Linked DNA regions of Homo sapiens. The protein of the gene in region 1 purifies or fractionates together with the protein of each later gene. This does not show direct contact. Each region holds a gene or a part of one and is shown on either strand. Other genes may lie near its edges.

What was found. The genes of interacting proteins can lie anywhere in the genome.
Region 2: the proteins of MGME1 (region 1) and ECSIT purify together in Homo sapiens (affinity purification with mass spectrometry; 4 studies listed by BioGRID and IntAct, with this or other methods). This does not show direct contact.

Annotation. Positions count from the first base shown.
Region 1 is NC_000020.11:17,974,641-17,979,838, reverse strand, and holds part of MGME1 (mitochondrial genome maintenance exonuclease 1 isoform 2 precursor), read right to left. Parts: intron 4,156-5,198; coding exon 3,936-4,155; intron 1-3,935. UniProt on the Homo sapiens protein: Metal-dependent single-stranded DNA (ssDNA) exonuclease involved in mitochondrial genome maintenance. Has preference for 5'-3' exonuclease activity but is also capable of endonuclease activity on linear substrates.
Region 2 is NC_000019.10:11,512,135-11,515,634, forward strand, and holds part of ECSIT (evolutionarily conserved signaling intermediate in Toll pathway, mitochondrial isoform 1 precursor), read right to left. Parts: intron 2,088-3,500; coding exon 1,670-2,087; intron 1,146-1,669; coding exon 922-1,145; intron 1-921.

The DNA.
Region 1 (5,198 bases):
GACAGCCTGAGCCTGGGGAGTTAGAGACTGCAGTGAGCCCTGAATGCATCACTGCACTCCAGCATGGGTGACAGTGAAAGACTGCCTCAAAAAAATAAACTAAAATAAAATAAAAAATTATTAGGCCCGGTGCGGTGGCTCACACCTGTAATCCCAGCACTTTGGGAGGCCGAGGCGGGCAGATCACGAGGTCAGGAGATCGAGACCATTGTGGCTAACACGGTGAAACCCTGTCTCTACTAAAAATACAAAAAAAAAAAAATTAGCCGGGCGTGGTGGCATGCGCCTGTAGTCCCAGCTGCTGGGGAGGCTGAGGTAGGAGAATGGCGTGAACCCGAGGCGGAGCGTGCAGTGAGCCGAGATCGCGCCACTGCACTCCAGCCTGGGTGACAGAGCAAGACTCCATCTCAAAAAAATAAATAAATAAAATTAAAAAAATAACAAAAATAAAAAATTCTTAGCTGGGCGCGGTGCCTCACACCTGTAAATCCCAGCACTTTGGGAGACGGAGACAGGCAGCTTGCTTGAGTTCAGGAATTCTAGATCAGCCTGAGCAACATGGCAAAACCCCATCTCTACAAAACATACAAAAAAATTAGCTGGGCGTGGTTGTTCGCATCTGTGGTCCCAACTACTCAGGAGGCTGAGGTGGGAGAATCGCTTGGGCCTGCGAGGTGGACGTTGCAGTGAGCCGAGATCATGCCACCGCACTCCAGCTTGGGCAACTGAACAAAACTGTGTCTTAAAAAAAAAAAATTCTAGGCTGGGTGCAGTGGCTCACACTTACAATCCCAGCACTTTGGGAGGCTGAGGCGGGCAGATCACTCAAGGCCCGGAGCTCGAGACCAGCCTGGGCAACATGTCCAAACCCCATCTCTACTAAAAACACAAAAAATTAGCCAGGCGTGGTGGTGGGTGCCTGTAGTCCTAGCCACTTGGGGAGGCTGACACAGGAGAATTGCTTGAACCCAGGAGGCAGAGGTTGCAGTGAACTGAGATTGGGCCACCACACTCCAGTCTGGGTGACAGAGCAAGACTCTGTCTCAAAAACAAAAACAAAAACAACAAAAAAAAACCGTAGTTTCAAAAATGTTCATATTACCAAGGTTGATGTTGACTTAAAAAGCAAAAAACAAACAACAGTGCTATGGACATATTTTATCATCTCTATGACAAGCATTGGGTGTCAGGAACTTCTTGTAGGCCTTGGGTGGAGGTGACTGTATGGCTTCCTTGGTTTATCTAAAAGGCAACCAAAGTCTATTAAATCTCTTGGTATACAGGGCTCTTCTCAGATATGACGCAGTTGTGCTATAAAACCATTAGGTGGTCTAGGCCAGGCGCGGTGGCTCACGTCTGTAATCTCAGCACTTTGGGAGGCTGAGGTGGGTGGATCACCTGAGGTCAGGAGTTCGAGACCAGCCTGGCCAACATGGCGAAACCCCATCTCTACTAATAACACAAAAATTAGCCGGGTGTGGTGGCGTGCACCTCTAATCCCAGCTACTTGGGAGGCTGAGGCAGGAGAATCGCTTGAACCCAGGAGGCAGAGGTTACAGTGAGCCAAGATCACGCCATTGCACTCCAACCTGGGCAACAAGAGTGAAACTCCGTCTCAAAAATAAATAAATAAAAAATAAAACCATTAGGTGGTCTAAACAGTTTTCAGACTATCAAGGGTGCCCACTCTTTCGGCTTCCTGGCCCACATTGGAAGAATTGTCTTGGGCCACACAATAGCTGATGAACTAAAAATAAATAAATAAATAACCAAAAAAAAATCTCATAATGTTTTAAGAAAGTTTACGAATTTGTATTGGGCTGTGGAATAGACAAGCTTTTAAACTTAAATTTTAACTAGAGCTTCAAGGTTTACATGAACGGATTTTTCTATCTTGTTCTTAGTGATCGCTTGCCTTATTTGGATTAGGGGTACCTGCAGGTTGTAGCCACCTTTGTATCAGAGGCGTTCGAACGAGAGCAACTCCATCTTGAGTGAGGGCTAGGAAAGTGAGGCTGGGCCTTGCTGGGCTGCATTCCCAGAAAGTCAGGCATTCATAGCCTCTAGATGTTTAAGGTTAAGGGAACAAATTAATAATGTTTACTAAACAGACCCAGACTTGGGAGTGTCCAGATACCCTGATATCTGGAGAACGAAGGCATTCCTAATTTTGCTTTAAAGATAGTATCGATTCTTGCAAAATATAATAATTAAGAAAATTAATCCTTTATCACAAACCCTTGCAGTAGAGCACATCTCCCCAAGATCTCTTTTTTTATCTTATATATATGAGCACTGTACTTAGGGTGGAAGTGTTCCTCCTCTTACTTTCAGGAACGCCCTGCTCTGTCTATGGAGTAGCTATACTTCCACTACTTTACTTTATTAATAAACCTGCTTTTACTTTGCACTGCAGACTCATCCTGAATGCTTTTTCTTTTCTTTCTTTTATTTTTTTTTTTTTGAGACAGAGTCTCACCTGTTGCTCAGGCTGGAGTGCAGTGGCACCATCTCGGTTCACTGCAACTTCTGCCTCCCGGGTTAAAGTGATTCTCCTGCCTCAGACTCCCGAGTAGCTGGGACTATAGGCACACACCACTGCGCCTGGCTAATTTTTGTATTTTTAGTAGAGACGGAGTTTTGCCATGTTGGCTAGGCTGGTCTTGAACTCCTGACCTCAGGTGATCTGCCCACCTCGGCCTCCCAAAGTGCTGGGATTACAGGCGTGAGCCACTGTGCCTGCCTTCAACCTAAATTCTTTCTTGCCCGAGATCGAAGAACCCTCTCGGGGTCTGGATCAGGACCCCTTTCCTGTAACACTTGGACTCTGAAGTACCTGAGTAAAACAGTAAGACAGCTACGATATAAAAACCATGGGGACCGGGCGTGGTGGCTCATGCCTACAATCCTAGCACTTTGGGAGGCTGAGGCAGGCGGATCACCTGAGGTCCGAAGTTCGAGACCAGCCTGACCAACATGGAGAAACCCCATCTCTACTAAAAATACAAAATCAGCCACACATGGTGGCGCATGCCTGTAATCCCAGCTACTTGGGAGGCTGAGGCAAGATAATAGCTTGAACCTAGGAGATGGAGGTTGCAGTGAGCTGAAATCGCACCACTGCACTCCAGCCTGGGCAACAAGAGCAAAACTCCGTCTCAAAAAACAAAACGAAACAAAACAAAACAAAACAACCATGGGAAGCTTTAGTAAGTTCAGATCTCTGATCCATGTCAAGCACTGCCTGGAAGCCAGGAAGAGTTGATTTTCAGAACCAACAGATCATGGTGCTATCTTTAGAAAAACAGGAAAGAAAACGCAGGAATGAAATTGGATCTTATGGCAGGTACCTTGCTTTGGGGGAGGGGAAGGACAGGCTGGCAAACAGGCCATGTTAGGGAGATTGAAAAATCTCGGCCAGGTGCAGTGGCTCACGCCTGTAATCCCAGCACTTTGGGAAACCAAGGTGGATGGATCACTTGAGGTCGGGAGTTTGAGACCAGCCTGGCCAACATGGTGAAACCCTGTCTCTACTAAAAATACAAAAATTAGCCAGGTGCGGTGGTGCATGCCTGTAGTCCCAGCTACTCAGGAGGCTGAGGCAGGAGAACCGCTTGAACCTGGGAGACGGAGGTTGCAGTGAGCCAAGATTGCACCACTGCACTCCAGCTTGGGTGACACTCCGTCTCAAAACAAAACAAACAAACAAAGAATATACCTTTCTCCAGCAAACAATTTGATTTTGGAGTACTGGATGACAAAGGTTACGTGGCTCTTCTCCTTGTACCTGTTCTCAACCCCGCCCCACCCAATTCTTTTACCTAGCACAAAGGTCTGGACATTAAACAGACAGAGGCTACAGTACCTACAGGCACACCTTTGACAGGCACCATCTGTCCTACGCTGTATTAATTCACCTCCAATCTCATACTTACTGATACTCAGCCACACAGTCCAGCAGACCTATATAGTTTAAGGTTTCATGTTGAACAGCACTTTCAAGAGCTCGCACTCCACTGACATCTTTCAGAATATGCTGGACACTTTCAATGTAACCAGACTTGAGGAGATTTTCATCTCTCTCTTTTAAGGTTTCCTGGGGTGAAAGTATGCTTTCCAAGGCTTCGTGGAACCGTTTCCCTTGTAAAAAGACGTCTGAAAAGAAAATCAGGGAAAAGGGGAGGGGGGAAACACAAACAAAGCTAACACTGAAAAACAAATACTCTAAAACGCCCTGAAACAATACAATTAAAAATGACATTTTTTTTTCTTTTTTTTTTTTTTGGATGGAGTCTCCCTCTGTCGCCCAGGCTGGAGTGTAGTGGGCGATATTGGCTCACTGCAACCTCTGCCTCCTGGGGTCAAGTGATTCTCCTGCCTCAGCCTCCTGAGTAGCTGGGATTACAGGCGCCCGCCACCGTGCCTGGCTAATTTTTCTACTTTTAGTAGAGATGGGGTTTCACCATATTGGTGAGGCTGGTCTCGAACTCCTGACCTCGTGATCTGCCAGCCTTGGCCTCCCAAAGTGCTGAGACTACAGGCATGAGCCACCGTGCCCGGCCAAAAATTACATTAGTTATTTTTAAGTGACAACCCCTAAGACCAAATTTCAGCCTCTTGTGAAACCTAAGAATATACTTTGAAACCAACGGGATTATTAATAGGACGTTAGGTAATAAAATGAATTAAAATTAAGTACTTCTAGGAGAATTGGGCCAAAGTCAAAACTGAAGATCTGGCGGCTACAAGACCACATCCAGTTTATGGTACTATGTGTTTAAGTATCCAATGTAATAAGTTAACTGGCTGTGATAAAATAAAAAAAAATTAGAAATCTAGGGAACTGTGCTTCTGTTTGTAGTTCTTTTTAGACCAAAACTTAATTATGAACATAGGTGGGGGAATCCTTTTACTAACAGGATTAGTGACAAACAAGGAATGGAAAATAAGGCATGCGCAAATGAAAAGTTATGAATTTGATATTATGGAATCTGGAGGGGGAGGAAGAGGAAAATATGTGACATTCTTCTCCTGTATTTTTTTTTTAGTGCTGGAACAGCCTGAAAAATTCAGCTGTGTCTCAATTTTTTTCCCTCATACATTTTTCTATTCTAATATTTAATATTTAACATGTAATATTTTTCTAATTAGCTTTAGATTATTAGAATTCTGATTTATGGCTTGTAGGAGGACACATC
Region 2 (3,500 bases), on another chromosome or scaffold:
ACGAGTTTGAGACCAGCCTGGGCAACATGGTGGAACCCCATTTCTACAAGAAATACAAAAATTAGCCGGGCGTGGTGGTGTACGACTGTAGTCCCAGCTACTTGGGAGGCTGAGGTGAAAGGATGGCTTCAGCCTGGGAGGTGGAATTTGCCGTGAGCCAAGATAGTGCTACTGCGCTCCAGCCTGGGCAACAGAGCCAGACCTTGTCTCAAAAAAAATATGAAGAGGTCTGAGGGGCTTGTTTGCCCCTTATATTATGTGAGGACACAGCAAGGTGTCATCTTTGAAGCAGAGAGCAAACCCTCACCAGACCTAGATCTGGTGGCACCTTGATCTTGGACTTCCCAGCCTCTAGAACTGTGAGCAATAAATTTTTGTTGTTCATCAATGACCCAAGCTAAGAGATTTTGTTAGAGCAGCCTGAACGGACTGAAGCAGAGGTCACTCAAGCTGTGCTAGCAGTAAGGACCATGGGAACCTACCAGGGGACTCAGCCAGAGAATCAGAACTCAATTCACGGCCAGGCACAGTGCCTCATGCCTGTAATCCCAGCACTTTGGGAGGCCGAGGCAGGAGGATTGCTTGAGCCCAGGAGTTCAAGGCCAGCCTGGGCAATATAGTGAGACCCTGTCTCTGAAAAAAAAAAACAGTTTTTTTAATTAGCCAGGCATAGTGGTGTGTGACTGGAGTCCCAGCTACTCAGGAGGCTGAGGTGGAAAGATCGCTTGAGCCTGGGAGGCAGAGGCTGCAGTGAGCCGAGATAGTGCCACCACACTCCAGCCTGGGCAACAGAGCAAGACCCTGTCTCAAAAAAGAACTTGATTCACCACAATCACTAGAGTGAGAGAAGGGGAGCCCAGGGGAGGAATGGCGGGAGCCTGGCCTGGGGTGGCAGCTGACGCTGTAGACAAGGGCGGATACCTGGTAGATGGTGACCCTGGCACTAAGGTCAGGCTCCATGTGCCGCAGGCCAAACATGGCCAGCTCCACAGGGTCCTGGGGCAGGTCCCGGGGCACTGGGAAGGGGTTGACGTTCATGAATCGAGGGAACCACAGCTTCAGGCGCACCAACTTGAGCATGGGGTAGCTTTTGCGTCCAAAGATCTGAATCAGCAGGAACTCCGTCTCCTTGTTGGGCATCACACCTGTGCTGGGCAGATGCAGGCAGAACCTCAGAGATGGAGGGGGAGGAGGGAAGGGAAGAGGAGAAAAGAAAACAGTGAAGTGAGGGAATTGATCACAGACAGGGAGAAAAGAATCAGAGAGAATTAGAAAGAAAAAGGCTCATGCCTGTAATCCCAGCACATTGGGAGGCCAAGGGGAGAGGATCACTTGAGTCCAGGAGTTTGAGAGCAGCCTGGGCAACATAGTGAGACCCCATTTCTAAAAGAAAGAGAGAAAGAGAGGAAGGAAGGGAGGGAGAGAGAGGCAGGGAGGAGAGGAGAAGAGAGGAGAGTGGGGGGAGGAGAGGGAGGGAGGGGGGAGGGGAGGGGAGGTCAGAGGGAGGCAAGAAAGAGAGATGAGTGATGAAAAGAGGGATTCGGAGAGGGAGAAGAGCGAGAGAGACAGAGACGGAGCCATGGAGGAAGGAGGGGCTGAGACTCAGGAGAGGTGCTGCCAGCTATCAGTGTAGCCCACTCCCCACCCTGCGCCAGCCTCCTGGCCTCACCGTGGTTCTCCATCTGCTCCAGGACAGCAATCCCACACTCCTGCTGCCGAGGGTAGTGGACGAAGATGCGCTGGATGATGTTGCGAGGCCGGAAGACCTCCTTGGGGAAGATGTTGAGCAGCTGGTTGTACACAGCCAGGTCCCGCTCGACACCATACTCCCGCATCTTGCGCAGGGCCAGGTAGATGAAGTCAATGTGGCCCCGCTTACGCACGCTGTGCTCCGCAAATTTCTGCACCGTCTGCAGGAAGCTCGCCTTGTCCCGTTCCCCACCAGGCGCCTGCCCAAACAGGTCCTCAAAGGGCACCAGAGCCTTGGTGGGCCTCTGCCGGGGTTCCGGTGGGCTGGGAACCAGGGACTGTTCAGAGCTATGGGCAGCTGCGCTGCAGTGGAGGCCCCGAGGGAGCCGGCGAGGGACCTGGGGAGGGAGGAGAACTGCTGGAATCTGGCACCTCTCAGTGTCTATGGGGGGCCGCCAGGCTGGCTCTTTCCTCAGAGAGGTCCCAGTGGCCTCCCTGAGGACTCGGAGGTATGGAACTGTGGTTACAAACCCAAGATTCGAGGCCATTACAAAGTGCGATAAAACACAATGCTGGCACAGTAGGGAGGAAACAGGCACTGTTAGCCATGGCTACGGGGAGCTGGTAAAAACTGCCACGGAGGCAACTTGGTAATATTCACAGTGATGACACACACATGCCGGTTTTTTTTTGGGTTTTTTTTTTTGGTTTTTTTTTGAGACGGGGTCTGGCTCTGTGGCCTAGGCTGGAATGTAGTGGTGCTACTGTGGCTTACTGCAGCTTTCAACTCCTGGGCTCAAGCAATTCTCCTCCTCACCCTGTCCAGCAGCTGGAACTACCGGTGTACACCACCACACCTGGCTAATTTTTAAATTTTCAGCAGAGACGGGAGTCGCACTATTTTGCCCAGGTTGGTCTTGAACGCCTGGCTTCAAGTGATCATCCCGTCTCCACCTCCCAAAGTGTTGGGATTACAGACATGAGCCACTGTGCCTGGTGGCCCTTTTTGCTTGTAATTTTTTTTTTTTTTTTTTAGACAGAGTCTCATTCTGTCACCCATGCTGCAGCGCAGTGGCGTGACCTCAGCCCACTGCAACCTCTGCCTCCCATGTTCAAGCGATTCTCATGCCTCAGCCTCCCAAGTAAGCTGGACTACAGACGTGCTCCACCACGCCCTGCTAATTTTTGTATTTTTAGTAAAGATGGGGTTTCATCATGTTGGCCAGGCTGGTCTCAAACTCCAGGCCTCAAGTGATCCACCTGCCTCAGCCTCCCCAAGTCTTTTTTTTTTTTTTTTTGAGACAGAGTCTCGCTTTGTCACCCAGGCTGGAGTGCAGTGGCGCGATCTCGGCTCATTGCAAGCTCCACCTCCCGGGTTCACGCCATTCTCCTGCCTCAGCCTCCTGAGTAGCTGGGACTACAGGCGCCTGCCACCACGCCCAGCTAATTTTTTGGATTTTTAGTAGAGACGGGGTTTCACTGTGTTAGTCAGGATGGTCTCGATCTCCTGACCTCGTGATCCGCCCGCCTTGGCCTCCCAAGTGCTGGGATTACAGGCATGAGCCACCGCGCCCGGCGTAGCCACCTTAAGTCTTGAGATTACAGGCATGAGCCACTGTACCCAGCCCCTTCTTTCTTTTTCTTTTTTTCTTGAGACAGAGTTTCACTCGTCGCCCAGGCTGGAATGCAATGGTGTCATCTCAGCTCACTGCAACCTCTGCCTTGTGGGTTCAAGCGATTCTCCTGCCTCAGCCTCCCAAGTAGCTAGGATTACAGGCGCCTGCCACCATGCCCAGCTAATTTTTATGTTT